Linked DNA regions of Homo sapiens: regions 1 and 2 are each reported to be linked to region 3. The links are microRNA targets in miRTarBase. Many come from high-throughput screens and were not tested one by one. Region 3 holds a microRNA gene; each other region holds the end of a gene's coding sequence.
What was found. The annotated mature microRNA hsa-miR-6780a-5p reads UUGGGAGGGAAGACAGCUGGAGA and lies in region 3 at 4,237-4,259, opposite strand. An mRNA with a match to its seed (bases 2 to 7 or 8) in the 3' UTR can be bound and repressed. Matches are read on the target gene's strand: a 7mer-m8 pairs with bases 2 to 8, a 7mer-A1 pairs with bases 2 to 7 and ends in A, and an 8mer does both.

Region 1 (10,133 bases), not on the chromosome of region 3:
CTCTCCATTAAGTTATTAAGAGCTTTTTCTTAGTTACAGAAGCTCTCAGTGGGCTGTGGAGACGCTGCCGTCTCCTGAACACATCCAGCGACCACATGACTAAGCAAAGGCAGCGGAGAGTGGACGGACGGTGATGGACGCGGCCACGGAGCCCAAGCGCCCACAATGCGCATTCCTGTCTTTTCTCTCCCCGCTCACCTCAGAGCGGGACGGAAGGTGGGACTGGGAGAGCTGTTCTCGGGCAGGTGGACGCTGTGGATTAGCGGAGAGGGAAGGCACTTTCGTTCTCGGCACCGTGAGGCTGTCCTGGTCAATCCTGTTTTCATGCTTGAGGGTCTCTGGTGCAGCAGCTCCACCAGCCTTGACACCAGGACTTCTGTGGAATCCAGGTAAGCAGCCAGGGTCCTGATAGGGCCATGCCCTCACCCCCATGTAATGCATCCACTCCCAGTTAAATGAGAAAGGAACAATCACAGGAAAACATGGAGAACAACTCCACTGTTCAGAAGCCAACCCTATATTAGCTACTGTTTAGGTAGAAATGAAAAACTTTGAGACGTAAACTCCTGCAGGTAGAAGTAGATTTCCGGTGAATGAACAAAATGAAGCTTATTAGAATCAATGGCCTCTTCTGAGAGCCGTTCTGAATTTTTTTTTTTTTGAGACGGAGTCTTGCTATGTCGCCCAGGCTGGAGTGCAGTGGCGCGATCTCGGCTCACTGCAAGCTCCGCCTTCCGGGTTCACGCCATTCTCCTGCCTCAGCCTCCCCAGTAGCTGGGACTACAGGCGCCCGCCACCACGCCCGGCTAATTTTTTGTATTTTTAGTAGAGACGGGGTTTCACCGCGTTAGCCAGGATGGTCTTGATCTCCTGACCTCATGATCCGCCCACCTCGGCCTCCCAAAGTGCTGGGATTACAGTCGTGAGCCACTGCGCCCAGCCCTGATTTTATTCCTAGTTGTAATTTAACTTCTACTTCATTTCTGATCCGAGATCACAAAGGGGCCATGTGAGCCCCAGGGACTGAGCGGAAGCTGAAGTCTCACAGCTCGAGGATTTACTCCCAACGTGCTGGGAAAAGCCCTAGATGAGCAGGGAGTAGCTAATTTCTTTTCTTCCCCTTCTTTTTCAATATTAATTGGATTTCCTTAAAGGCCGTGTGTCTATTAAGTTTGTTATCAATGGCTATTTAGCACTTGTAGAAACCCAGCCGTATGTTACATACAGTAGGGTCTAGTCAGGAAAACAGCCCAGGCCAAGTGGTTCAGCAGAGGAAATGCAGGGGCAGGGACGGCAACCGCAGGACGCCAGAGGCCCTCAGGTGGAGATAACGGCCCTGAGTGGAAACGTACAGGCTCCAGAACCTGGTGGGACCTGGGCTGATGCAGGGGAATGAGGGGTTTCAGGGGAGCTACGGCCGTGACCATCAGACGCCCAGCTGCAGGGACAGGCAGGTGGCGGGGGGGGGGGGTCTGTTTTCTGGGTGAAGATGGGGGCATTTTTGAAAGCATTGGGAAGATACACTTGACGTATCTATCCAGTCTCCAGAAATGCACGTTTAACGCTCAGAAGGAAATCTTGCAACAATTGAAGTGCTGTGGGAGGCTCCGCGAGCAGAGACAAGATTGTCCTTCTCTGGGTTTCAGGGCATTTAGACATGACACTCAAAAATATTTCACTGTGGGCCGGGCGCGGTGGCTCATGCCTGTAATCCTAGCACTTTGGGAGGCAGAGGCAGGTGAATCACCTGAGGTCAGGGGTTCAAGACCAGCCTGAACAAAATGGTGAAACCCCATCTCTACTGAAAATACAAAAATTAGCCGGGCGTGGTGGCGGGAGCCTGTAAGCCCAGCTACTCTGGAGGCTGAGGCAGGAGAGTCACTTGAACCTGGCAGGCAGAGGTTGCAGTGAGCTGAGATCGAGACACTGCACTCCAGCCTGGGCAACAAGAGTGAAACTCCGTCTCAAAATATATCTATTTCATGTGAAGGTGAAATCCAACCCCGACGATGTGTAGAAAAGCCCAGCAATCTCCCGCAAATCCCTGAGCCGATGGCCGCGGAGATGGGTGTCCTGGTGGTGCTCCCAGAGCTGCCTCCCCAGGTGCCACCAGGACATGCTGCCTTTGGGGCTAGAGGTTCCCACCTCATCAGTAACGAGGGCATCGCCAGCCCTCAGCTGCCTTGGGCGCCCACAGTCGGCTTTCACGCCTCCCAGAGGTTCCGCCACCTTCAGCCCTCACTTCAGATGGAGTCAGAACTTAGAGATGTGGACACTGTGAAGGTCACCGGCAGCCAGTGGTGGAGCCGGGGGAAGGGTGTAGGACGCCCCCACACACAGGTGAAGAGGGCACTGCCAGGGGGAGGGCTGTAGGACACCCCCACACAGAGGTGAAGAGGGCACTGCCAGGAGGAGGGCTGTAGGACGCCCCCACACACAGGCGAGCAGAGGGCGTTGCAAACATGGGCAGAGGCGGCCCAGCAGCAGTTTAACATTGCCCTGTGTCCAGGAGAAAGGCCACTGCCCAAGTATGCTCTTTATCGCAACCTGCAACATTCCCCCTCAGACGGAAGCTTGTGTAGAGGCCGCCAAGTTCCAACAAATGCTCCCGACTGTAGACGCCACCAAGTGCTGGGACTTGCTCTCGTCATCTGGGAAAGGCTTGGGGACGCTGCCAGCAACTGTCATGTTTATCCATCAAGCTAGACGGCGGAAGTGCAGTCGTCTTAGTTTCCCCCATTATCTGCTTCCTGCTTTTTTTTTTTATCTCGAGTCTCAACTTTGTTGCCCAGGCTGGAGTGCAACGGCACGAACTCCACTCACTGCAGCCTCCACCTCCCGGCTTCAACAATTCTCCTGCCTCAGCTTCCTGAGTAGCTGGGATTACAGGCGCCCATCACCACGCCCGGCTAATTTTTGTATTTTTAGTAGAGATGGGGTTTCACCATGTTAGCCAGGCGGGTTTCAAATTCCTGATCTTGAGTGATTCACCCGCCTCAGCCTCCCAAAGCGCTGGGATTACAGGCATGAGCCACTGTGCCTGGCCTGCTTCCTAATACTACCCGAGGTCTCAGATTTCTGAGTGACCTGGTAATTTTTAAATCCTGAGTCTCCTTCATGCCTGTAATCCCAGCACTTTGGGAGGCCGAGGCGGGCGGATCATGAGGTCAGGAGATCGAGACCATCCGGGCCGACACGGTGAAACCCCGTCTCTACTAAAATACAAAAAGAAATTAGCCGGGCGTGGTGGCGGGAGCCTGTAGTCCCAGCTACTCAGGAGGCTGAGGCAGGAGAATGGCGTGAACCTGGGAGGCGTAGCTTGCAGTGAGCCGAGATCGCGCCGCCGCACACCAGCCTGGGCCACAGAGTGAGACTCCGTCTCCAAAAAAAAAAAAAAAAAAAAATCCTGAGCCTCCCATCAGCGATACGTCCTCTGTCCTACACTCAACCCAAATTCCTGACAGTACCTGCCGCCACTCTAAGCCAGGAAGAAGTGACCCATTCATCTCTGCCAAAACCACTCCTGACACCCACTGCTGAGCTCTGTAGCAGGACGCAGCGTGGAGCTTCGAGCTGCTGAGACAGACACAGCTTAAAATATACCTGTCAGTGCAGTGCCTGCAAACACGTAGCAACTCCATGGAGAAAAGGAAAAAGTTCAGATACATACATGTCCCCTTAAGGGTTCTATAGACCAAAAAAAATTATATCCTTAATATTTCAGAAAGTTAAGGCCACAGAAGGTGGTCAGGGAATTTTTACTCTGTGTAGCAATTCTCTGGGTACAGAAGCTGGTAACGCTCACAGGAAGAAGTGCATTAATCCCACAGGGCCAAGCCCAGCGACCACCACTTCCTGCCCCTTTTCTGTACTTTTTAAACCATGGTGGCCTCTAATAACGTCTAACTGAAAACTCTGTACCTGGTTAACTCTTTTTTTTTTTAGACGGAGTCATGCTCTGTCACCCAGGCTGGAGTGCAGTGGTGTGATCTCGGCTCACTGCAACCTCTGCCCGATCAAGCGATTCTTCTGCCTCAGCCTCCTGACAAGTGGGGATTACAGGCGCCCGCCACCACGCCCTGGCTAATTTTTTGTTTAGTAGAGGTGGAGTTTCACCATGTTGGCCGGGCTGGTCTTGAACCCCTGACCTCAGGTGACCACCCCCTCCCAGCCTCCCAAAGTGCTGGGATTACAGGCGTGAGCCACCACACCCAGCTTACGCCTGGTTAACTCTTAATGACCAAAATCAAAGTATGGATGAAAAAGACGAGAATCTGGGAAGTCACATTGCTGAGGTCTGAGAGTCATGACTCCACTGTCACCGGGGAGGCCCAGCAGAGGGCAGCACCTGGATGATGAGACCCAGTTCAGGAGGCGCAGCACAGAGCGGTCACCATCCTTCCCCGGTTCACCGGGAAGCTTGCTCCCCCTCCTTCTGTATTCCTGGCAAATGACAACGGGCAAAGCGAAGCGTGGGCCAAGGACGGAGGAGGCGGTGCCGCGCGTCTGCCGTGGTCACAAGCCACAGAAGTTTGCTTCACTCCTGCCAGAAACCGGCAGGACAGTAGAATTCTCTTTTAAAGCACGTGTTGAACAGAGTGTGTAATAACATGAGATTAAAAAGTTACTGCCAAACGACAAAATATAACTATTAAAATGAAGCTTCCAATGAATATGAAAATCTTTACCAAAAAATAGTTTATTGCACAAAATTTAAGGAATTCCCAAGCACACTTACATTTGTAAAAAATCAACGTGCTTTTTAAAGTTACACTTTGTCAGACACGGTGACCCCTTTCCCAAGAACAGCCACAACTTGAGGACTCTCTTTTGTGAGGAAATTTTTAATAAAAACAAGTAACTCAAAAGCACTGAATTTTCCAGACCCTCTAACACATTTCCCTCCGGATCCTGTGAGAGCCTGAGATCACTTATGACGAGATTCACCTGGACCTTCCGGTCAGTGAGCTCAGAACACCTCACACCACAGCGTCACTCAACTCAAGTCCCTCCTCACATCAGAGGGCTCCTCGAAGGGAGGCCCCAGGACGGTTCTCTCAGATTTGCTGGTCCCTCCCCTCCTAGAATCTTCACGTACAACATTCTGTTTTTGTTTTTAAAGACCTCAGGGAACTAGAACTCGGTTGTGGGAACCCTGCACCAAGGAGAGTTGAGGGCCAGCTCCTTAGCGCAGCACAGCACGGACTGTGTTCTGGTGGGCAGGGCCCCTGCTGGACCCACCCGAGGAGAGTCCATTTCACATCCTATCAGAAACACTGCCTGATCCATATTGCAGAGAGTGGGAACGGGTGTGAGTCCGTAAGACCCGTAGCATCAATCTCACATATACCACGGAAAAACACATGAAAACCAAGTTACGTTGTTTTTGGAACATCAGAAAAACAAGTAGTGACATCGTGAAGTGCCCTAGCCTGTTGTGACACACGGTGTGGGGATGAACACGCCGCCCTAGCCCGTGACACACGGCGTGGGGATGAACACGCCACATAATGCACTGGTGACCCTGTTTTGTAAGCAGTACTCCCAACTTCACTGCCTTTTCCGTGAGGATATTCCATCATTCCCACTTCTGCCCACAAGAACAAAATAATTCAAACTTTATGCACTGAAGTAACTCTGGAAGGTAGAAGTGCCGGGAGAGTCCCTTGGAGATAAAAAAACCTCAACAATAAAAAAAAGCAATTTAAAAATCCAACTGCAGCCGGGGGCGGTGGTTCACGCCTATAATTCCAGCACTTTGGGAGGCTGAGGCTCAGGATCACCTGAGGTCAAGAGTTCAAGACCAGCCTGGCCAACATGGTGGAACTCCACCCCTCTAAAAATACAAAAATTAGGCTGGTGTGGTGGCGGGCACCTGTAATCCCAGCTACTGGGGAGAATGAGGCAGGAGAATCGCTTGAACCCAGATGGCGGAGCTTGCAGTGAGCAGAGATCACGCCACTGCACTCCAGCCTGGGCGACAGAGCGAGACTCTGTCTCAAAAAAAAAAAAAAAAAATTCCAACTTCCTCTTTTAGGCGTCTTCTTAAGGAAGGAAGTGTCCGCGTGAACACGAGAGGCCTCAGATCCAGAAGCACAAGCCGTGCATGAAAACACCAAAAGACTCACTGCAGGGAGCAAAGGCAGCCAGGCCCTGCCAAACCAGAGGGGGCCCTGGCACCGGCGACCACAGAGCGCTGGGGGAGGCATCGCACCCAAGGGCACACACGCAGGAAAACCGGGGTGAGAACATAGAGCTACTTTTCCTTCGGTATTTTCAGAATTAGTCTGTCCTAAGAGAAAAAAAAATACATGGTGAACATCACTCACTTGAGGACTTCCCATAAGCAAGGAGAAGTCGCTCCCCACTGAATGTGTGATTTCTCGATTTTAGATTTTTTAAAATCATTTATTTATTTTTGAGACGGAGTCTCGCTCTGTTGCCCAGGCTGGAGGGCAGTGGCGCGATCTCGGCTCACTGCAAGCTCCGCCTCCTGGGTTCAAGTGATTCTCCTGCCTCAGCCTCCCAAGTAGCTGGGATTATAGGTGCGCACTACGACACCCGGCTAATTTTTGTATGTTTAGTAAAGACGGGGTTTTGCCATGTTGGCCAGGATGGTCTGGACCTCTTGACCTCAGGTGATCCACCCGCCTCGGCCTCCCAAAGTGCTGGGATTACAGGCATGAGCCACCGCGCCCGGCCCGATTTCTTGATTTTAAAATTAAAACAAAGGGGTAGTACAGCCAAAATAAATAAGAACGTAAATTGCCGTATTTTTTTTTCTAATGGTACAAGAACAATTTAGTAAATAACATCTTCAACTTAAGATAAAAAGTAGGATATATTTATAATGAAATTTTCAAGTATTATTTCAAAATTAACCCTGTACAAATGATATATTTTGGAAATTCCAATATTTGCTAGAGAATATTTTTTAAATACCAAACATCTTTGTGGTTAATGCTACCTTAACCTTACCAATTAACCTTCTAAAAGTATATTACAACAGAACACAAATAGCTTAAAACACACCATACTGTTTTCTCCACAAAACAGACACCAGACACCGACATGAGCACATCTGGCCTGGCCAGTGACTCAGAACCTCATTTCAGACCAGTACATCTGCAGAGGAGGCCACGCGGACCCATTCTCTCTCTCCTAACTCATATAATAAATATTATTTTAGATTTTCTTAGCAAACTAGGGGACAACTTACAGACCCCACCTCTCCCAGTCAGCCAGTGTCTGCAGGGTTTCAGGATTTGGGGTAGGAAACAGAAGATCTCACACATGTCGTGCTGATTTTAAATAAGGCATCTGTCTCTGAGACACCTGGGAGAGCACAGCCACCTTCCTCACGGTGCCTGCCTGTCTCTTCCGGAAGTCGCCTCTGCTTGCCACATGATGCTGGTGTAACCACAAAAGATCCAGGACTTCTCGATGACTGCAGAAGTACAGGTGCTCCTACACACGAGTACAGGCGCTCCCACAGACAATGGTAAAGATTTTCACTTGGGGAACAGGAGTGTGAGGTTTGTTACCGCCTGCGACCTACACCTGGCTGACTCCAGGGGAAACCGCGGGAGTCGCTGCAGGGAGCCCCTGGTCTGCTCTCCTCCTCCTCCTCCACCGGCCTCTCCCTGTGCCCCCCCAAAGGTCAGATCAGATATGGGGCCTCAGTGTCCTTGTGCCTCCTGATGGCCGTCAGGCCTGACCAAGGGTCCAAGCTGCCCCTTCCCAGTGGCCAGCCACGGTGGAATCACACAGGGCCAGTGGCCTGAGAGGAAGAGACCAGCAGGAAGGAAAGATCCTCAGCAACAAAGTAAAACCAGAACAACAGAGGACCTTTCTGTGTAAGAATATTTGGCTTTAGAAGGTAAATAAAATAATTATATTTCTTAGAATTTTCTGACTATCCCTAAATCCTGCAGGTAAATTATTCCCAACAAATTTTCAAAAGGCAATCAATAATAAGTAGGTTCTTCTTCAATAACATGAGCATATGCTTCTTAAAGACTGGGTGACAGGCCGGGCGCAGGGGCTCACGCCTGTAATCCCAGCACTTTGGGAGGCTGAGATGGGCAGATCACTTGAGGTCAGGAGATCGAGACCATCCTGGCCAACATGGTGAAACCCCATTGCTACTAAAAATACAAACATTAGCCTGGCATAGTGGCGCACGCCTGTAATCCCAGCTACTCGAGAGGCTGAGGCAGGAGAATCGCATGAACCTGGGAGGCGGAGCTTGCAGTGAGCGGAGAGTGTGCCACTGCACTCCAGCCTGGGCAACAAAGCGAGACTCTGTCTCAAAAAAAAAAAAAAAAAAAAAACAAAGATTGGATTATGATATTCAGTATCTATGTACACATCCTATGGTGGGATGGCTATCCAAAAAAACAAGTAAAAAGCCAAAGGTACAGATAAAATTTCATTTCTGCGGAAAAGTAAAGCTCTTACTGAATGGAACAGGGAAGTGAGAAACTGCAGCCGGCCTGGCCAGGCGCGGTGCCGCAGACCCTGTCACACAGCTGCTCCCAGTTACGCAGCCTCTCCCTGTCACCCGCAGAGAGCAGCATCGGTGGCCGCTCAGAAGCCACGACCTACAAGTAACCCTTCAGACACGTTCAAAGCTCCTCGCCGAGAGCCTATCAGGCTTTTAAGAGTTGGTCATTCCATGTGAAAAGCTAATTGTGATCTTCGAATGTTTTTCTAGTCCTTGGCTCTCATTCTGCTATATATTTTACTTCTTGTTAAAGGCAAAACAAAACTTAAATTTCATGTCTTAGAAAAACATCGACCACACAATCAAATAAATAACATTGATAAGAGCCTTCTGGGGCAGCGGCGCACGGAGGCGAGTCCACAGCAGTCACTCTCCCGGCCCTTCTTTGGAAGCCCTGCTCTGACTGTGTCTCTGTGGGTCGCCGCGTGGGCCGGCGTGACCCCCCGGGGGCACAGGGCTGGCAGTGGCTGGCTCCAGCGGCGTCCACGAGGACAGAGACTCGTGCACCGTCAGGGCGTGCTCCTCCATCTGGCGCTGCAGGCTGTCCATCTCCTGCCTGGGACAGAAGAAGGAGGAAGAAGGCCCAGATCACACAAGTGCCAGGCAGAACGCGCCACCTGTGGACAGCGTCACTCGCTAGCACCTGAGTGGACCGGGGCGCCTTCGGGGATCCGCAAACCAACTGAGACCACAGAAGCTCAGCTGTTCTCAGCACCGTTCTCTACACTGTGCAGAGGACACAGGCTCAAGGACCAGTCCTGACCAGGCGGCAGGGTGGAAGCTGTCACTGAGGCCTGGCACACACGACTTCCACTCCGTTACCTGCCCTCGGGGCGCCGCCTGGCTCCGCCCTACACACTTCGCTCAGCCTCAGGCTGCCAGGTGCACCATGTGTGGCCTTCCAGCTTCTCAGGGCCTATCAGGGTAGTTTAACTCCAGGCAGTTTCCACCTATGAGTTCACAGGCTGTGTGTGCGAGTTCCCCCACCTTTATATAAACCTCAGAGGCTGTGCGAGTCCCCCTCCCACTTTATATAAACCGCAGAGGCTGTGTGAGTCCCCCTCCCCCTTTATATAAACCTCAGAGGCTGTGCGAGTCCCCCTCCCCCTTTATATAAACCGCAGAGGCTGTGAGTCCCTCCCCCTTTATATAAACCACAGAGGCTGTGCGAGTCCCCCTCCCCCTTTATATAAACCTCAGAGGCTGAGTCCTTCCCCCTTTATATAAACCTCAAAGGCTGTGTGTGCAAGTCCCTCCCTTATATAAACCTCAGAGGCTATGTATGCGAGTCCCCCACCCTTATATAAACCTGCTGAAACTCTGCTGGGCACTCAGTACTGGCACCAGGAGTGCCCTCCCAGGTAAGAGGGCATTAATCTTTAAGACTAGCTGAAGTGCAGCACGGAATACGGTCGTACTTGAGCTGCTGGAGGCAGCTGTTCAGGTTCTTGAGGGGCTCCTTGCTCACGGCGGGCGGTGGTCTCAGCAGCTCCTCCAGCAGCGAGGCGGGAACTGGGCAGTCCGGGATCTTGATGGGCGTGGCAGGGTTGGAAGAGCTGGCCTCGCCTTTCGGCTCCTTTCTCTGTTTTTAAAAGCACATGATCAGCTTTCCCACCGTCCCCTCCCT
Region 2 (9,692 bases), not on the chromosome of region 3:
CCGTGAGTGAGGGTTGGGTGGGAGGTGGGGGCTGTGCCCCATCCCCTGCAGGTCCCAGAGTCCTGCAGGGCCTGAGTCAAGAAGCTTCCGTTCTCCCACCTCCAGGTGGCTGCGACACTAAACAACCTGGCAGTCCTGTATGGCAAGAGGGGCAAGTACAAGGAGGCTGAGCCATTGTGCAAGCGGGCACTGGAGATCCGGGAGAAGGTGGGAACAGGCAGGGCTGGGCAGGCTGGGGGTCTGGGAGGCAGGGGCCCGGGCAGCCCTGAGCCCAACCCCTGGCTCCCTCTCCCATCCCAGGTCCTGGGCAAGTTTCACCCAGATGTGGCCAAGCAGCTCAGCAACCTGGCCCTGCTGTGCCAGAACCAGGGCAAAGCTGAGGAGGTGGAATATTACTATCGGCGGGCACTGGAGATCTATGCTACACGCCTCGGGCCCGATGACCCCAATGTGGCCAAGACCAAGAACAACCTGGTACCTTGGGGCTGAGAGGAGCTGGAGGATGGGAAGGAGGGAGGCAGGGATGAGGTTGGGGAAGAAGGAGAGAAAAAGGCTTGGCTGCATGCATCCCGCTCACTCTCTGGGTCTCCCGCTTCCAGGCTTCCTGCTACCTGAAGCAGGGCAAGTACCAGGATGCGGAGACCTTGTACAAGGAGATCCTCACCCGCGCTCATGAGAAAGAGTTTGGCTCTGTCAATGGTGAGTGCGTGGTCACCAGGTGCCTCTAGCCCATCCATCCCAGGCCCACTCTGCCATCAGCACCCAGGACAAATCCCTCAGCAGGGCAGGCCCTCAGGCTTTGGCCTGGCTGGTCACCAGCCTCACCCTCAGATGGTGCCCAGCCACCTGTGCTCACGTTTGCACACATGAGCACACACCCAACTCACGCAGCCCCCTTGGCCTGCTAGGGCCTCACACGCCTTTGCATCCCCCTTCTCCACTGGCGATTCTTGCTCACCTTGAGGGCCTGCCCCAGTGTCTCCCACTCTGGGAAACCACCTCTGGCCCCGGATGGTCAGTCATCTGCTCCTGAGTCCCTCGGAGCCTGGCCCATCATTCAGGCCTAGCACATGTCTTGGGCTGTGGCCTGAGGTGCAAGGGTCTGTTCTGCTCATCTCTGTCCAGAAGAGGGTCAGCAGTGTTTTGGGTCTTACTCTTGTTCATGCATTCAACGAAGCCCAACCGTGGTCTCCCCTCCCCTGACCCCAGTCCTGTGTCCAGCCCAACCAGGTGAGACCTATATGGTAGGCTGGTGACAGTCCCCTTTCTCTCCCCAGGGGACAACAAGCCCATCTGGATGCACGCAGAGGAGCGGGAGGAAAGCAAGGTAGCTCTGTGGGGCAGGCTGGGCGGTTGTCAGGGGAGGCTGGGATGTGCAGAGGGGGGCCTGCTCTCACTTCTTGTGACCATTCTTTCCTCCAGGATAAGCGCCGGGACAGCGCCCCCTATGGGGAATACGGCAGCTGGTACAAGGCCTGTAAAGTAGACAGGTGAGTGGGGCGGGGCTGGGCTGGGGAGCAGGGCACGGCAGGGCGGGCTCCACATTCCATACTCTCACCCCCAACACACCCCTCCTCTGCTGCTCATCTGGCAAGGCCCAACTCACAGGTCACCTGTCCCAAGAAGGCTCTGTCTCCCAATTCTCAGCCTAATTCTCTGGCTCTGGGTCTCCCAGCTTTTGGTCCTGGTGACAACATCCCATGAGGGCCCTGGGGCCAGGTCCCCAGCCCTGGGGTGATTTCCCCAGGACAGAAGAGGCTGGGTGGGCCCAGCACAGGGCTTGACATGGGAAGGAATGGATTCTGGCTACCCCGGAGGTCCATGCTTCCTCAGGGCCCACTGTGGGCTGGGTGCCAGGATGGGCCCTGGGTCTGGGGGAACATGGAGTTTGAGACTGTCCCATCCACAGCCCCACAGTCAACACCACCCTGCGCAGCTTGGGGGCCCTATACCGGCGCCAGGGCAAGCTGGAAGCCGCGCACACACTAGAGGACTGTGCCAGCCGTAACCGCAAGCAGGTGGGGCTCCATGCAGGAGGGGGTGGGCAGACACCTGTGTGGCCCTGGGTGTGGTCCATTCACTGCCTGATGCCCCTGCCCCTCCCTCAGGGTTTGGACCCCGCAAGCCAGACCAAGGTGGTAGAACTGCTGAAAGATGGCAGTGGCAGGCGGGGAGACCGCCGCAGCAGCCGAGACATGGCTGGGGGTGCCGGGCCTCGGTCTGAGTCTGACCTCGAGGACGTGGGACCTACAGCTGAGTGGAATGGGGTGAGTCCGGGGCCTGGGCCGGGTCGGGCTGGGAGCCTAGGTGGCCAGCGGGGCCTAGAGGCAAGCCTGTCCACCTGCAGGATGGCAGTGGCTCCTTGAGGCGCAGCGGTTCCTTTGGGAAACTCCGGGATGCCCTGAGGCGCAGCAGTGAGATGCTGGTAAAGAAGCTGCAGGGGGGCACCCCCCAGGAGCCCCCTAACCCCAGGTGAGCCCCCCACCAAGGTGAGCCTCAAGAACCACCCAGCAACCCCGGATGAGCTCCTGACCCAGAGTGTGCCCCACTGACCCCAGGCAACCTCCCCATCCCTCTCAGGCTCCACCACCCACCAGTCTGTTCCCTCCCCAGCCCCACCCTTCTCCCTGCCCCCATCTCCCGTGAGTTCCTCCTTGGGCAAATCCCAGGCTGTCCTTTTCCCTCAGGATGAAGCGGGCCAGTTCCCTCAACTTCCTCAACAAGAGCGTGGAAGAGCCGACCCAGGTAGGGGCAGGCGGGTGTCTGGGCACTGGGCAGCTGCGGCCGGGGCTGCATGCGTGCTGCCAAGCTTCCCTCCAGCATGCCTCTTCATCCAGCAACAGTTCCTGGCTCTGTCTCAGGCCTACTTTGGGCTGGACAACGGGGAGACACGAGGGGAACCCAGCCTCTCCTGGGGGTGGACGTGTAAACGGCCAGTGCTAACACCGTCACTGTGGAGATGGACGGGAGTGTCAGGGCACCAGGGTGTGGCCTTGGGTCAGAACTGCCATTGCCTCTGCCCAGCTCAGGGATTCCGGCTGCCTCTGCCAGGTCAGACCCCTTCAGGCCAGGGAGGCACAGACTGGCAGCAGCACAGGGCTGAGCCACCTGCCCCCTCTGCCCACAGCCTGGAGGCACAGGTCTCTCTGACAGCCGCACTCTCAGCTCCAGCTCCATGGACCTCTCCCGACGAAGCTCCCTGGTGGGCTAATGCTGAAGGGGCAGCCAGTCACCAGAGCGCCCACCTGGCACACCCCCCTCACCCCAGCCCTGCGCATGGGCCTGCTGCTTGTCCCGCCTGTCTCTCCCACAGCCCCTGTCTTTTCTGTTCAATCTCAGGGTAACCTTCTCCCTTGTCATCTCAGCCTGAGCCCTGGAGGCTGGGCCTGCCCACTCCAGCTCCATCCCTTATTTATTCCTTCCAGCAGGGCCCTCTTCCCTAGGTTCGGGCCAGCAGGAGGTGCCGGCTGGAGTCTCCACCATAGACTCAGTGGCCTGGCCTCCCCAGACCCCAGAGCCAAGAACACTAAGCACTCGCCGGCCCTTCGGCACCCTCGCCCTCCCTCCCGACTCAACCCGGCCGTTGCTTCTGTATATAGAGAAATAAGTTATTGGCCGCGCGCCTCCCTTCAGTCCACGGTACTACCCGGGCCTCCCCTCGTCCCTCTTCTAGTGGTACCGCCCAGGCCTTAATCACCCCCATTCCGTGCGGTGGTATCTCCCAGGCTCTACATTCTCGGGAGCGGCGCCTCCCAAGGGGGTCCTGGGACCTTCTCGCGCTCCTCCTGGCCTCTGAGGGATGCGTCCTACCCGCGCCATCGCCCCGTGGCCCAGGACGGGGACCTCCCCTTAGTCCGTCCTCCCACCGCCGGGCCCTGCCCCGCATCCCGGCCTTATGCACTGCCCCTCCCACCCGGCCCCGCCCAGGCACGGCCGACCCCGCCCCGGGCACCGCCCACCGAGCCATCCTGCCTCGCCTCCCCCCACGCCTGCAGCTTCTCGCGAGGGGCGGCGACGGTCCCCTGGTGGCAGGAGGGGCTCCCCCTGTTGCGGGTGAGGCGGCTGCTCTCATATTTTCAGATGTTGCTGTAGAAATAAAGACGGTTTAAATCTGAGCTGGGCTTGTTTTGAGACGGAGGTCGGGGGCCCCCAGCGTCTCTAGACTGGGGTGGAGCCGGGAAGGGTCGTGCGTGAGTGGGGGACAGTGTGTCTCGCTCAACCGCTGTCCGCGCAGCTGGGCCCAGATATTGTGCCCCACCCCGGAATTGCGTGAGGGGCCCACAAGTCAGGCTTTCCCTAAAACACTCACTTGTGGGGTTCTGGAGACCGCGGGCTCTTATGAGCTCTGCTCCTCACAAAGTTTTTGACCTTGAGTGAGTTTCCCGAGACTCAGTTTTTTCATCTATGAAATGCGGGTGATGACGCGCGGCTGCGAGTTAGGACTGCCCAGTACACGAAGAACCCTGGACAAATGTACTTTTATTAGTCTTACTAGAACCCACATTCTCATTTAATGTTCACAACGTGGGTATTGGGAGGGCAAGGATGACTACCTCCGTCAGACAGATGTGAAACGTGCCAAGCCCAGCCCTAAATTGAGCTTTCTAAACACCGAGTCGCGGTCAGGCTTTCCAGCACTGTCCTCAAGCCTGAGTGCGTCCGGAGTGCAAACTACAAGCCCCAGAAGGCAATGCGCCAGCAGTGATGGGAGTGGGCGCGGAGGCGCGGGCTCCCCGACTACGCCTGCGCAGCGGGGCTGAGTTGGAGAACGTCTTAGACTACAAGTTCCGGGAATCAGCGCGGCGAGGCCTGAGAAGAAGACGTTTGCGCCTGCGCGTCGCGGGCGGGGCCTCTGGGGCGGAGCGGCCACCATCTTGGAACGGGAGGCGGAGCAGAGTCGACTGGGAGCGACCGAGCGGGCCGCCGCCGCCGCCATGAACCCCGAATAGTGAGTGAGCCCCGCCCGCGCCGTCCAGCGCAGCCTCGATCCCGAATACAGGGCTGTACGCTTACCGGGGTTGTCTGGCCCGGGTCAGGACTGTGCGGCGCCCCCACATCCGGGTCCCTCTTCCGCTGACCCCCCCCCACATCCGGGTTCTGCCCCTCCCCCCAGGGGCCCCAGGACCCCGGCTCAAAACCCCGAGCCCTCGCACCCGGGGCCCAGACGTGGCGACCCCCAGGGGCAGCTCTTGGAGCTCGAGACATCGGTCCTACCAGGCCTTATCGGTCAGATGACCCCGCAGTCCCGGTCACTTCAGGCCTCAGTTTCCCCACCTGCTGCTTGACAACTGTCCCGGAGTTTTGGAGCCCGTCTTGATAGTTTCTGGTCTCGGGTTCAGGCTTGGGCCCTTTAGGTCGGGCAGTGAATCCCTCTACCCTTCTCTTTCTCCTGAAGCCCGGCTCCTGGGGCCGGCCCAGAAGCTAGCCAACTACGCGGGAGGCCCCGAAGCGCCGCTTGGGTCGCGTCTCCCGCAGGTCCTCTCTTCCGGGGCTGCCTCCTACCCTTTGCCTGGGTCGCGCTGTCCTGTCGCTCCCGCCGGTCCGTCCTTTCCCGCCCTCTCCTCGCTTTTGCTCAGGCCCCCAACGCCACCGTCACACCCCTTCCCTTGGCTGTCACACTGCCTGTGAAGTTTAGATGAATATGGAATTTGCTCTCCCCCTTCCTGTGGGATTCTCTGGTCCTCAAACTCTCCTCACTCTTGGTCACTCCCCCTGCGGGTAGGTGGCCCACATCTCATGCCCAGGACTAATAGTTTTCCCCAAGTATCAGTTATCTTCTTCCTTTTCTGCCACTTCCTTTTTCTACTCCACATCCAGGTCTCAGATTTCCTTGGGGAAGGGTGAAGCTCTGAGCTGGATTGGGAGGGGAACAGAGAAGGGAACCAGCAGGCTCTCGAAGGGACTTTGGAGTCTGAGAAACCTGGTTTGAGTCTTAAAGCGATAAACTGTGTAAGTTAGGGCAAGTCACTTCCCTTCTCTGGCCTCTGGTTTCCTCATTAGTTGACAATGACAAAACTGACTTCATTGAACTGTTGTGAAGATTAAATGAGATGATGCATTTAAAGTACTTCACACAGGGTCCGTCCACAGGTTGGAACTCAAGTATATTAAATGTGATTACCTTTTGCCTTTTTTTTTTTTTATTTTGAGACAGGGTCTCTCTCTGTCACCCAGGCTGGAGTGCAGTGGCGTGACGATGGCTCACTGCAGTCTCCAACTCTTGGGCTGAAGCAGTCCTCCTGCCTTGTCCTCCTGAGTAGCTGGGAATACAGAGGCACACCACCACACCTGGCACATTTTTTAATTTTTTGTAAAGACAGGGTCTCGATATGTTTCCCAGCCTGATCTCAAACTCCTGGGCTTAAATGATTCTCGTGCCTCGGGCTTCCAAAGTGTTGGGATTACAGGTGTCAGTCACTGCACCCAGCCTTAAGTGCAATTTTCACTGCAACTTGACCACCTCTTCCTGGTGACTTCATAACAGGTTTTTGTTGTTGTTGTTGTTGTTGTTGTTGTTGTTGTTGTTGTTGTTGTCTCCAAAGAGATGGGGTTAGCCGGGTGCGGTGGCTCAGGCCTGTAATCCCAGGACTTTGGGAGGCCGAGGTGGGTGGATCACGAGGTCAGGAGATCGAGACCATCCTGGCCAACATGGTGAAATCCCGTCTCTACTAAAAATACAAAAATTAGCTAGTCATGGTGGCGCATGCCTGTAATCCCAGCCACTCTGGAGGGTGAGACAGGAGAATCACTTGAACCAGGGAGTCGGACGTTGCAGTGAGCCGAGATCGTGCCACTGCACTCCAGCCTGGTGAGAGAGCGAGACTCTGTCTCGAAAAAACAAAAGAAAAGAGAGACGGGGTTGTGCTGCATCACCCAGGCTGGTCATACACTCCTAGGCTCCAAGGATCCTCCTCCTGTTTCAGCCTCCCCAGTAGCTGGAACCACAGGCACACGCCACAGCACCCAGCCATCAGTCTCTCTACGTGGGTTTTCAACTTAATAGGTTCTAGGCTGGGCCCTGGCTTCTACTTCTGGGGCCTTCTCTGCCAAGCTAGGCACACGCAGGGCATGTACTGGGGATTCCCTAAATAGCTCCTACTGGACCAAACCATGAAGTTTCAGAAATCAGGTTAGGATACCCAGCTCTGTTGCCTTGGCAGGTCACGTGTCTTGATTTCTTTCTCCATAAAGTGAGAATTTAGACTCAGCAAGCTGAGAGCCCTTTGGGCTAGCTGTTTGTGGAGGGAGGCATCAGCCCTCCCTGACCGGGACTGTTGGGAAGATCTGGTGAGCACCATAGTATTCTAAACCAAGGGATGGCCAGGCGCAGTGGCTCACCCCTGTAATCCCAGCACTTTCAGAGGCCAAGGCAGGTGAATCAATTGAACCCGGGAGTTTGAGACCAGCCTGGGCAACATAGTGAGACCCCATCTCTACAAAAAATGAAAAGATTAGCCAGGGGCCGGGTGTGGTGGCTCACACCTGTAATCCCAGCACTTTGGGAGGCCAAGGCAGGTGGATCACCTGAGGTCAGGAGTTCGAGACCAGCCTGGCCAACATGGTGAAACCCTGTCTCTACTAAAAATACAAAACTTAGACAAGCATGGTGGCAGGTGCCTGTAATCCCAGCTACTCGGGAGGCCGAGGCAGGAGAATTGCTTGAACCCGGCAGACAGAGGTTGCAGTGAGCCAAGATCGCGCCATTGCACTCCAGCCTGGGCAACAAGAGCAAAACTCAGTCTCAAAAAAAAAAAAAAAAAAAAAAAAAATTAGCTAGAAGTGGTGGTGGTGGTGGACACCTGAAGTCCCAGCTACGCAGGAAGCTGAGGTGGGAAGATCACTTTGAGCCCGCAAGGTAGAGGCTGCAATGAGCCGTGATCACTTCAGTGCACTGTAGCCTGGGTGACAGAGTGAGACCTTATTGCTAAAAAAAAAATAAAAATAAACCAAGGGATGCCTCATGGGGTGGGGGAATCCTGTAATTGTGACTCCAGGATGATGGTAGGTGGGCTCCCTGCCTCCCTTCACGCCTTCCCATCTTCTCTCTCCAGTGACTACCTGTTTAAGCTGCTTTTGATTGGCGACTCAGGCGTGGGCAAGTCATGCCTGCTCCTGCGGTTTGCTGTGAGTAAGAAGCCTCCCATACCATCCACCTGGGGTCCTGACTGGCAGCTGGGGGGAGAAGGGACAACACAGAGCACAGTAGTTGCAAGATCTGGGAACCAGGGGTGAAGCTGTAAGACCTGCCACCAGCACATCTGCCCTGAACAAGACAGGGCTGGCCAGCTGAGTGCTGGGAATTGGGGCTTGGTGGTTCGGAGACCCAGCTGGGGCAGGGAACTGGAGGGAGGCTCTCCAAGTGGGCCTCACCTCATTAACTCCCATGATTTCATTGGCCCCTGAACTTTCAGGATGACACGTACACAGAGAGCTACATCAGCACCATCGGGGTGGACTTCAAGATCCGAACCATCGAGCTGGATGGCAAAACTATCAAACTTCAGATCGTGAGTGTCGCTCTTCCCAAAATCCCCAGTACAGAGGTATCCACCTTGGGAGGGAAGGGACTCTGGGACTCTGGACCTCAGCTGACCTGCTCCTCTGCCTACTGTCTCCTAGTGGGACACAGCGGGCCAGGAACGGTTCCGGACCATCACTTCCAGCTACTACCGGGGGGCTCATGGCATCATCGTGGTGTATGACGTCACTGACCAGGTACTCCTGGACTAGCCATCCTCAGCTTGGCCTCCTTAGCCTTAGGTCTTTGACTCTTCTTTTTCCTCCTTCCATCCTCTCTTTCCTGATGCTTCCTGGAAAGGACACTATTTGTCTGCTTACAGGAACTAACTAGGAAAAAGAAAAAAAATAGGTGACTGTACTTGGACTCATTTCACAAGGAGGGAAACAGCCACAGAAATGGATCCTCTGAAGGCCCTGCTGCAGGTTCTGGCAGGACAAGGCCTCACACCTTCCCTCCCCACCAAGCCAAACTTGCCACCTTATTGTAGACCTTCTGGGCACCTTTGTGTTGTGGGAGTTTAGTCAGGCGGTTGGCTGCTATGCTGGGCCTGTGGCTTCCTGTGTGAAGACACAGTGCAGGGGGACAATTAGAGGGCCTTAGACAAAGAAGCAGGGAAGCTTGAGCTCTGGGCCCAATGTGAGCAGAGATCCAGAAGCTCTGCCTCCAGCAGCAGCGTTAGTCCCATGTGACTAGCAGTGGTGGTAGCAAGGGCTGGAAATGGTTCCATGAAACCTTATAGTTTACAGAACCTGGCCCAGCCCTCAGATTGCCTCTGATGCTCAGAAGAGGTCTGTGTTCCCATCGCACAGGTAAGGAGCTGGGCTCAGGATGGTGAGGTGACTTGCCGAGGGTCCTTCAGCTAGTCCGGTGGCAGAGGCAGAAAGCCTGGATGGCTCATTCCACCTGCTTTGTTTTTTCTACCAAATGTTGTTGCTTAACAGGGCCAATCCCTGAAGATAAGGAGAAGCTTAAATCAGCCGTGGGCCGGGAAGAGTCCCTGTCTGAGGAGCAGCCGGGCTCTTTAGCTCACCAGGGACTCATGATGTCCCCAGCTCTGGACGAGCTGTGGGGAAGCTACATACCACCCAGACAAGTTACCAGGGCCCACCTGACTGCCATATATCCAGTGATCTTATTTCAGCACATTGACCTCTCGTGGCTTTGGACACTG
Region 3 (10,142 bases):
TAAAATCAGTTAAATGGTAACAGAAACACTTTAGTCTGATGGGAATGTTGAAGCCCAGTGTGCTAACAGGAGCAGAGGAAAGCATGCAGCCTCAGAATTCAGCCTTGTGTGGGAGCACTCCCTTTGGGTCCCTCTTTGAATTATGGATCTTCTCATCTACTGGGCAGGGAGATTTCTCAGGTAAAGACGCTCAGCACTCCTATTACAAACAGAACCCAGAAATGGAGGTTCTTCCAAAGCAAGGGCACTGTGGCCTGTGGGATCCCCAAGTGTGATCCTGCCCCCTTGCTCTATGCATCTGCTGGAAGATTCGGAGCTGATCTAAACTTGGACTACAGCAAGGGCAATCTGGTAGAAAGATCACCTTGGGGCCAAGTGCGGTGGCTTACTCCTGTAATCCTAGCACTTTGGGAGGCCGAGGCGGGTGGATCACTTGAGGCCAGGAGTTCGATACCAGCCTGGCCAACATGGTGAAACCCAGTCTCTACTAAAAATACAAAAATATTAGCCGGGCATGGTGGCAGGTGCTTGTAGTCCCAGCTACTCGGGAGGCTGAGGCAGGAGAATCACTTGAACCCGGGAGGCAGAGGGTAGAGGCTACAGTGAGCCAAGATCGCACCATTGCACCCTAGCCTGGGCAACAGAGCAAGACTCCGTCTCAAAAAAAGAAAAAAAAAAAAGACCACCTTGGGATGAGACAAAGTGACTTCATACCATTATTGAGGTTGAAGAGGAAGCTGGACATGTATTTGTCATAGACCTTTCCGCGTCGATCAGCCTCATCCTGAGAGATGAGCTAGAGAGATAGACAAATAACAAATAGGAGTATCAGGCTGCCTGCTCAGGGCATGGTACCCTGCCCCCAGAAAGGGCTGGGTGGTATCTCACATGGGTGCTTACTGAGCATCATGATGAGAATCACAAGAGAGCAAGTTCAAGTTATGCTGTTCCAATTCCCACCCAGGCCAACCAGTTTTAAGGCTGAAAAGAGCCCCCCTCATCTCTTGTGTCTGGAGTTGCCAAAGAGTTGAACAGTGGTTTCAGTACTGCAAACGGTTCTGTGGGATCTCCCCAAGAGGCCACGTGAGAACACAGCTGAGTTATTTAGAGATTAATTCAAAGAAGCCTGGCCCACAGAAAATCAGAGTTTCTCATCAGTCTCCCCCGAGTAAGAATGTGGGCCAAAACTATAGCACTCACCTCACCACAGTATTCAGAAATGAATTCGTTCTTCTGCACAGACTCCTTTATGAAGGTGCCCCATCCGGCCACATCAGAGGGGGCCAGCAGCAGGTGCTGGGGAAGAGGGGGCCAAGTCTCAGACTACAGGGTGTGCATGAGTAGGGGGTGTGTGCTGGATGTGCACATGTGTGGTGGGGGTGGGGTGGAAAGAACCAGCAACTGTTAAGAGGATCTGAAAGCAGAAAAAGGTCTAACCCATTCTTTTCTGCTTGGGAGAGAAAAGAAAATGGGAGGTGGTGACGAACGGAAATAGGATATCTCTTCCTTTATCCATGGAGCCCTCCTGGGCCTTAGTCTATAGGAATTCACTGCAATGTGTGAGGTAAACATAGACATCACCAAAGGTGCATACACCTCGCAGCTCCTTTTTGTCTGGCCAGTTCAAGGAACCACTTTTCTTTCTCTTTTTGGAGATGGAATCTCACTCTGTCCCAGGCTGGAGTGCAGTGGTGCGATCTCGGCTTGCTGCAACCTCCACCTCCCAGGTTCAAGCGATTCTCCTACCTCAGCCTTCTGAGTAGCTGGGATTACAGGCATGCACCACCATGCCTGGCTAATTTTTATATTTTTAGTAGAGACAGGGTTTCACCATGTTGCCCAGGCTGGTCTCGAACTCTTGACCTCATGATCCGCTGGCCTCGGCCTCCCAAACTGCTGGGATTACAGGCATGAGCCACCACACCTGGCCAGGAACCATTTTTCTAAGCCCTACTGGGACTGAAGCCTTTATTAATTCAGTAAATATGTGTCTTTTAGGATTTATCAAGCACTTTCACATATAAAGCCTCAAAAGAACCAGTGGAAAGAGAATGCTTGGGACCGTTCCTTCCTTCCCCCTCCATTTTATGTGGTGTGGGGTCCTGAGGAAAGGCCTCACCTTCTTAAGTCCACGCTGGATGCTGCAGTTTTTACAGGAAACCACCTTGCAGTCCCAGTGCTCTGAGGCCCCACAGGTGAGACACAGGTCAGGGTCACATTCTCGCACTGCCAGATAGCAAGGACATTGCTTGGTATTGCACTGGGTCTTACAGCGACAGCCAGGGAAACGATTCTGACCTGGGAAGGGAAGACAGGTAAGTCTTAGAAGGGAAATAAGCTAATACTGGGGCTTGTGGTTGACTCAAGGGACAGCAAAGAAGTAAATTTTTTGTGTTCAAGGATGTTTGGCAAAATAAGAGGAAGCTCCCTTCCCAATAATCAAATACACAAGTTTTGTCCATAGAAAACTGAGTGCTTCCCAACATTCATGCCTTCGAGTCAAAAAAGCAGGTGTGGTCAAGCATGGTGGCTCATGCCTGTAATCCTAGCACTTTGGGAGGCCAAGGCAGGAGAATCACCTGAGCCCAGGAGTTCAAAACCAGGCTGGGCAACATAGGGAGATCCTGTCTCCACAAAAAAATTAAAAAAAAAAATAGCCATGTGTGGTGACACCTGCCTGTAGTCCCAGGCTTGATGGATGTAGGGGGATGAATGGCTTGAGCCAGGGAGGTTGAGGCTGCAGTGAGCCATAATTGTGCCACTTCTCTCCAGCCTGAGCAACAGAGCTGAGATCCTGTCTCAAAAAAATTTAAAAAATGAAAAAAAAAGCAGGTATACTAATAAGAAGTGTCCCCTAGAGATTCCCCAACAATCCTCTCCCTCCCACTGAGGTGGAGAGTACCCCAGAGAATATGAAATCAGTGTGTTTCACTGGTAAATTGTCACCATCAAAACAAGTATCATTTTGAGAACAGAATGCATCCGTTCTATGCCATCCTTCTCCACCCACTGCCCAACCCAGCGCAACCACTTCTCTGCTGCGGCTAAGATCACTATCTGCTATGGGTTAGGAGGTATTTCCTCCAGCAAAACCGCCTGGGCACCAAGTTCTGCAAGCTGTGGGGACTGCCATCAAACTGCTCAGCTTTGAGTTGGGAAGGGCATGGTGGGATAAGAAGTAAAAGATAAGTACCCGGATGTCTCTGCTGACATCCAGGCCCCTGTCTTCTACCTGATATTAAAACTCCAGCTATGAAATGAAAATAGACATACACAGAATCACAAACAAAAAATATCTGAATAAAAAATTTTTTAAAACAGTATTCAGAAAAGGGAAACTGGGGCTGTAACTTAAAAAAAAAAAAAAGAGTCCCACATTTCTTTTCTTTTTGAGACAGAGTCTTGCTCTGTTGCCCAGGCTGGAGTGCAGTGGCACAATCTTGGCTCACTGGCAGCCTCTGCCCTCTGGGTTCAAGCAGTTCTTGTGCCTCAGCCTCCCAAGTAGCTGGGACTACAAGCATGTACCACCATGTCTGGCTAATTTTTGTATTCTTAGTAGAGACGGGGTTCACCATGTTGGCCAGGCTGGTCTTGAGTCCTGACCTTAAGTGATCTGCCCGACTTGGCCTTCCAAGTGCTGGGATTATAGGCGTGAGCCACCACACCTGGCCTAATTTTTTTATTTTTAGTAGAGATGAGGTTTCGCCAAGTTGGCCACGCTGGTCTTGAACTCCTGACCTCAAGTGATCCGCCTACCCAAAGTGCTGGGATTACAGGCGTGAGTGACTGCGCCTGCTGCCCCCCACATTTCTTAATTCTCCCCTAGAAGACAAAGTTGGGAAAGTATCTGATTTCTGTGTAATTGCTGCTTTTAGAATCATGAACCTAAACGTTTTCCAGAAACGACTCTCCCAGATCTCATGCACTTATTTCATTTGTAGAATCCCTAAAACACAGCAAAGGGGATATCAGAAGGCCATAAGCAGTAAAGGGCACAGGAATGGGGCAAGCCTAGGGCACACTGGAGCCAACTGTTTTGGTAGACTATACAGAAAACGTAGCACACTTACAGTCTGGGTTGCACTGGCAGAACTTCTCACAGAAATTCTGAGTCATGATGCAGGGGCAGGTGCTGTCACAGGGGCGGTCTGGGTGGTCGCAGGGTTGGTAGTTGTACACTTGTGTGGAAGAGTTATCTAGGAAAGAAAACAGAGGAGGATGCTGCTGTGACCATACTCTCCAGCTGTCTTCCCTCCCAAGTGTCCAGCTGCCCTGATTCAGAGGAGGCTGGTCCTAACAATCTCCTTGGACACACATTTAGCACCTGAAGTGAGAAGACAGGGATGACCGTTGTTCATAAGCTGCAGTGGGGTGATCTGCTTTGTGGGGAGGGTGTGGAGATGGTCTGGGACAACAGGGAAGCTATTCTAAACATTAAATGAGGTCTGGAACCTAGCAAATGGCACACTAGAAAAGTCACATACTGGCCAGGCACAGTGGCTCACGCCTGTAATCCCAGCACTTTGCGAGGCCGAGGCAGGTGGATCATTTGAGGTCAGGAGTTCGAGACCAGCCTGGCCAACATGGTGAAACCCCGTCTCTACTAAAAATACAAAAATTAGCCAGGCATGGTGGTACATGCCTGTAATCCCAGCTACTTGGGAAGCTGAGGCAGGAGAATTGCTTGAACCCGGGAGGCGGAGGTTGCAGTGAGCCAAGATTGTGCCACTGCACTCCAGCCTGGGTGACAGAGCGAGGCTCCATCTCAAAAAAAAGAAAAATCACAGACCACAAGGCCCTTAATGTTACCTCCTAAGAGGTCTTCTCAGTTGCAGTGAGAGGCTCAGCTGTTCTCAGTTGCTGCAGAGAATTCTGCAATCTGCGGAAGTGGCACAGGGTCAACAAGTGCAGCTGGAGGTGGGGTAGGGTGATGACCACAGAGTGAGGCCTCCAGCTGAACTGCTGAAGAATGCCCTGGTAGAACTTACCTTTCTTCAGCTGAATCTTCCTGCAGTGTGCAGCCCACAATCTGAAAAAGACAGGAAGGACAGGTCTCAGTCACGGCCCTAGGGAGCTCTGCAAATGCAGGTAAATGACAACGTGACTTGCTCTGAGGGACTGTGTTTGATGACTGGGGAGTATCTTCCCAAACCCCTCAACAGGACGACTTTGGTACACAGAAGCTAGAGTCCATCCTAAATCCAGCTGGCCTGTGCTACAAGAGTTAAACTTAAACACAACCCCTCCCAAACAAGCAAATAACATAAAAGAACACAACACAGAAATAAAAGAAAGCCCAAGCCTATTGGTCTATTATAAAGCTATTGTTTCTCTCCAAATCTCTCCCTTTGTCTTTGTGGAGGTGGAGATATGGGGGAGTTTCAAGATGGGGAGGTGGGAAGGCCTTTCAGGAATCTTCTCTGAAAGAACTGAAAGGGAGGAGCCACAGGGATTTCCTTCTGTATCTAGAAGTGGTGTCAGCTCCTTCCTCTGATAGGTGATAGTCACTAGGGAACAGGGCCAGGGTGCAGAATTTTTTTAAAAACTTCCAACCTAAGTAAAGGCTATCATGTAACTCAGAAAAACAACACAAACCAAACAAATAAATAAACTCTGATCAGAGTTGAGAAATGGGTAAGGTGGTAACAAAACCAACAAGGAGAAATGGCTTCAGGGTGGAGCCATGAGGCCAGCTCATGTCCTATTGGCCAGAAGCTTAAATAGAAAAACAGACAGTTATGGTCCACAGCACTGGGGGACAAGAAGAGGGCTGATCTAAGGCACAGACCCTCAGGGAGCACTCAGGAGGCTGGCTCTCAGTCATGTGATGCCAAGCTGATGGGCTCACACAGCCTGTGCGGTTGCTAAAGAGGGAGGCAGATGGGAACTCCAAGGGGAGGTCAGAGCACAGGGAACAGCCTGGCTGTAAAACAAAACACTTTGTCCAACCCTTCTTGCCTGTGCTTTCTTTTCTTCTTCTGTGAGGGGTTCATGAGCTCATCTGTTGGCAGCTTCAGGATAAGTGATTCTTTGACTGCAAACTGAAAGACCTGGAAGAGAAATCCAACGGGCCTGTCACTCCTCGAGCAAGGGGGTCAGGTAAGTGGCCCAGCTGGGTGCTGGCCTTGGGAGGGTTCTGAGAAACTCAGGCAGCTGACCAAGCCTCTCATCAGTCAGGGAGAGACAGAGTGCCACTGGAACATTGGGTTACTGGCTCTGAAGTTCATTCCTAATTATTTATCCTGACTCAGGAAAGGAGAAATACTGAGCACAGTAATACCGCCCCTGGTCAGAAGCTGTCACCTACTACTCTTTCTACCAAGCCACGGGTAGAAGAGTGGGCTGACTGTGACCAACAGTATCTTCTTCTTTTTAGGAAGGGCAACGCTGTGCCTTGTGTAACTGAGTGTAAGGCAGGACAGGACAGGACAGGAATGGTTTCAGTGGGCTAAATATTAGCTCCCTCTGTCAGTATAAAGATACCGGAGCCTCAGCCATTTCAATAGGATGTGTTTTTTCTCTTAAAGCACTGGTTTTTAGTTTTTCCTTTTCTTTGTTGGGGCTATTGGCCCTTTGTGGGGGATCTTTGAAAACTGTAACTATTCTCAGGAAAATACAGACAAGAACATTCTTGCATACAAATCCATAGATGGTTACGTTGAGAACCTGTGATCAGGGAAATAGGTATGAGCTCCAAAATGAAAGCAAAGGGCACTTCAGCTCATGGTTCTGTTTTTGTTTGTTTTTTTTTTTTTTTTTTAAGAGAGAGGGTCTCATACTCTTGGCCAGGCTGGAGTGCAGTGGTGCCATCATAGCTCAATGTAGTATAGAACTCCTGGGCTCAAGCCATCTTCCCACCTCAGCCTCCTGAGTACTAGGACTACAGGTACGTGGCTTTTTTTTTTTTTTTTTTTTTGTAGAAATGGGGTCTCACTTTGTTGCCCACACTGGTCCTGAAATCCTGGCTTCAAGCGATCCTCCCACCATGGCTTCCCAAAGCACTGGAATTCTAGGTGTGAGCCACCTTGCCCAGTCCATGGTTCTATTAATTGTTCTCAGTACAGGAAGCATGAAGAAGAGGCCACAGAGTCTCCTCCAGAAGGTAGGAAGCCAAAGCATTGGGGTTCCTTTCCTGTTGGACATGCTGGCCCTGACAGCTGCCTCCTTGTCCCTGTTCTTCAGTCTGTCTTCTCACTGTGGTCTTTTCCTGTCTTTTCCTGGGCCAATCACTTGAGGTCAGGAGTTTGAGACCAGCCTGGCCAACATGGTGAAACCCCATCTCTACTAAAAAAAAATACAAAAATGGCCAGGCACATTGGCTCATGCCTGTAATCCCAGCACTTTGGGAGGCCGAGGCGGGTGGATCACCTGAGGTCAGGAGTTTGAGACCAGCCTGGCCAACATGGTGAAACCCCGTCTCTATTACAAATACAAAATTAGCCGGGCGTGGTGGTGCACACCTGTAATCCCAGCTACTTGGGAGGCTGTGGCAGAAGAATCACTTGAACCTGGGAGGCGGAGGCTGCAGTGAGCTGAGATCATGCCACTGCACTCCAGCCTGGGCAACAGACCGAGACTCCATCTCAAAAAAACAAAACAAAAAAAATTAGCTGGGTGTGGTGGTGGGCACCTGTAATCCCAGTTGCTTGGGAGGATGAGGCAGAAGAATCACTTGAACTTGGGAGGCGGAGGTTGCAGTGAACCAAGATTATGCCACTGCACCACTCCAGCCTGGGCAACAGAGCGAGATTCTGTCTCAAAAAAAAAAAAAAATTAGCTGGGCATACTGGCCTGCACCTGTAGTCCCTTGCTACTTGCTTGGCTGAGGGGAGAGGACTGCTTGAGCCCAGGAGGCGGAGGTTGCAGTGAGCTATGATCATGCCACTGCACTCCAGCCTGGGCGACACAGTGAAACCCTGTCTCAAAGACAAAATAAAGATAATCTAGTGATAGAAAATGTGGAGAATAAAATGACTGAAGAGGCTGGCGGAGTGGTGGAGGGAGCAGCAGCTGCAGCAGCTGCAGCAGCAGCAGCAGTGTGCTCATTAACAAGAGCCACAGAAAGACCTGGGAGTCCCTTCTGGGAAAGGGGTACACATTTAGAAAGGAGGCCAGAGCCAAAAAAAAGAAGCGAAAGAGTGTAGGACCCAGAAGCATTAAATAGAGTCCAGACAGAAATGAGCATTCAGCAAGGAGGAGGCGGGTCCCCAAACATCATTAGGCCTGGCACTTGCAGAAGGGCCATGTTTGGGAAACTCACAGAAGCACAGGCTCATCAGGGACTGAACTTAAGACAACTTCTCTCCAGACCCAGACACACAGCCTGGTAAGATGGCAAAGGGCTGGACAGAGCAATGCGTGAAAGGAGGGGCCCATTTGTTCTGCTGCTTCCAGATGGTACCTGCTTGCACGTCTTGGTCCCCAGAAGCCTGGCTATTGAACAGAAGTTGTTGAAGTAGGTGCCATGGAAGACTCGAAAAAGAGATTCTTCAGCCCCAGTCCATTCCACAGGCTCCGAGGGTGCTTCCACTACGCAGAGTTGAGGTGGGGCTGGACTAGCCTTCTGTTTTGTGGGAGTCTGACAGCGAGAGTTAGCCTCTGAGAAGGGAAGAAATAACAGAATCAGAAGAAGGTAGAATGCAGTTGTCATCAGTAGTTTGTCACAAACTCAGAAGTACTTCATTCTACTTTAAAAGGTAGAACAGTTAGGAATGAAAATATTCCCTATCTTTAGGCCAGGCATGGTGGCTCACGCCTGTAATCCCTGCATTTTGGGAGGCCGAGGTGGGTGGATTGCTTGAGCTCAGGAGTTCAAGACCAGCCTGGGCAACATGGCGAAACCCTGTCTCTACTAAAAATACAAAAATTAGCCAGGCAGGGTGGCTCACGCCTGTAATCCCAGCACTTTAGGACGCCGAGGCAGGCGGATCACCTGAGGTCAGAAGTTCAAGACCAGCCTGGCCAACATGGCGAAACCCCGTCTCTACTAAAAATATAAAAATTAGCCGGGCGTGGTGGCAGGCACCTGTAATCCCAGCTACTTGGGAGGCTGAGGCAGGAGAATCGCTTGAACCTGGGAGGTGGAGGTTGCAGTGAGCCAAGATAGCACCACTGCACTCCAGCCTGGGCAAAAAAGCGAGAGACTGTTTCAAAAAAAAAAAAAAAAAAAAAGAAAATATTCCCCATCTTTACTGTTTACAAAACTTGTAGAAAGAATTTATAATTTTTAAGAGGTAGTAAAGTTAAGTGTCAGGCAGTGATCCTGGGTTTACCAGAGTCCTTGCATGGAAAGAAAAAGTCTTCATTTTCTGTTCATCGTACCTGAAGAACTGGAGGCCCAGTCATTGCCTGTGTCCCTGTCACTGTCTCCTTCTTTAGTCTCAGCCACAGCAGAGGCTGAGGCATTGGAGCAGGAAGCACTGACTATGTGGTGCCTTCTCCGGCGACGACCAGAGCACTTGGAGCGGGGGTTGTGGAGCATGGCATACTCCTTTGCTCCTTCCTGCAGTGGACACATTACAGACAGGAAATAGGAACAGGCCCATCACCATATTGATCTCATCATCACAAACTTTCATCTTTACAACATCTGTCTACAATAATAGTGTCTTTTCTTTTTCTCTGTACCATATAATAAGTATGATCATATAACAATGAGAGCTGCTTAACAAAACTTACGTACTTTTTCACAAAAGAGTTGTCCTATAATGTTTTTTTGTTTGTTTGTTTTTTTGAGACAGGGTCTCTCTCTCTTGCCCAGGATGGAGTGCAGAGGCCTGCTCACTGCAGCCTCGAATTCCTGGGCTCAAGTGATTCCCTTGCCTCAGCCTCCCAAGTAGCTAGGACCACACGCACATGTCACCATGCCCAGCTAATGTCCTATAATCTTAAAAAAGATATAATCTATGCATCTGTGTCTTCAATTTTCCAGTGAGTTGTATCTAAAATTAACTTGCGTGTTACTTGTTTGGAATTTGAGAACACATTCTCCTATGGATGAAGAAATGAGATTCAGAGAGGGGAAGAAACTAGCTTGAGAGTATGCAGCTAATAGTTCCAGAGGGGTATAGGAATCAGGGCTCCTTGTCTCCCTAGGCCACTATTCTTTCCAGTCTACCACACTTTCTCTGTTTCCTTAATAA

Region 1: the mRNA of GOLGA3 is a reported target of hsa-miR-6780a-5p. Seed matches in the 3' UTR shown: 7mer-m8 at 8,236-8,242, 8mer at 8,068-8,075 and 8mer at 5,759-5,766.
Region 2: the mRNA of KLC2 is a reported target of hsa-miR-6780a-5p. Seed matches in the 3' UTR shown: 8mer at 3,749-3,756, 7mer-m8 at 3,859-3,865 and 7mer-m8 at 3,906-3,912.

What each region holds. Positions count from the first base shown.
Region 1 is chr12:132,764,233-132,774,365 of GRCh38, forward strand. It overlaps GOLGA3 (golgin A3), which reads right to left. Exons shown (of 24, transcript NM_001389683.1): 23 at 9,925-10,088; 24 at 4,682-9,062. The coding sequence ends at 8,873. Among named protein-coding and RNA genes, the nearest start is that of ANKLE2, 7.5 kb to the left of the region's middle. RefSeq lists enhancers at 3,631-3,680, 3,791-3,840, 5,309-5,478, 7,570-7,769 and a cis regulatory region at 5,394.
Region 2 is chr11:66,263,746-66,273,437 of GRCh38, forward strand. KLC2 (kinesin light chain 2) reads left to right here. Exons shown (of 16, transcript NM_001318734.2): 6 at 1-2; 7 at 106-207; 8 at 301-474; 9 at 600-699; 10 at 1,278-1,327; 11 at 1,423-1,490; 12 at 1,910-2,018; 13 at 2,109-2,267; 14 at 2,348-2,472; 15 at 2,688-2,745; 16 at 3,128-4,115. The coding sequence ends at 3,211. It overlaps RAB1B (RAB1B, member RAS oncogene family), which reads left to right and starts at 4,894. Exons shown (of 6, transcript NM_030981.3): 1 at 4,894-4,948; 2 at 8,052-8,124; 3 at 8,412-8,507; 4 at 8,620-8,715. The coding sequence starts at 4,935. KLC2-AS2 (KLC2 antisense RNA 2) reads right to left here and starts at 4,666. Exons shown (of 3, transcript NR_186342.1): 1 at 4,554-4,666; 2 at 4,310-4,463; 3 at 3,804-4,086. LOC107984340 (a long non-coding RNA gene) reads right to left here. Exons shown (of 2, transcript XR_001748274.1): 2 at 8,412-8,847. It also overlaps KLC2-AS1. RefSeq lists enhancers at 2,464-3,346, 4,103-4,152, 4,453-4,502, 4,623-4,952, 5,113-5,994 and 1 more and silencers at 3,603-3,652, 3,673-3,992.
Region 3 is chr17:42,703,888-42,714,029 of GRCh38, forward strand. It overlaps MIR6780A (microRNA 6780a), which reads right to left and starts at 4,264; the gene lies at 4,197-4,264. EZH1 (enhancer of zeste 1 polycomb repressive complex 2 subunit) reads right to left here. Exons shown (of 21, transcript NM_001991.5): 11 at 9,322-9,502; 12 at 8,402-8,598; 13 at 5,959-6,050; 14 at 4,989-5,029; 15 at 4,071-4,196; 16 at 2,120-2,298; 17 at 1,201-1,296; 18 at 715-796. RefSeq lists an enhancer at 963-1,603.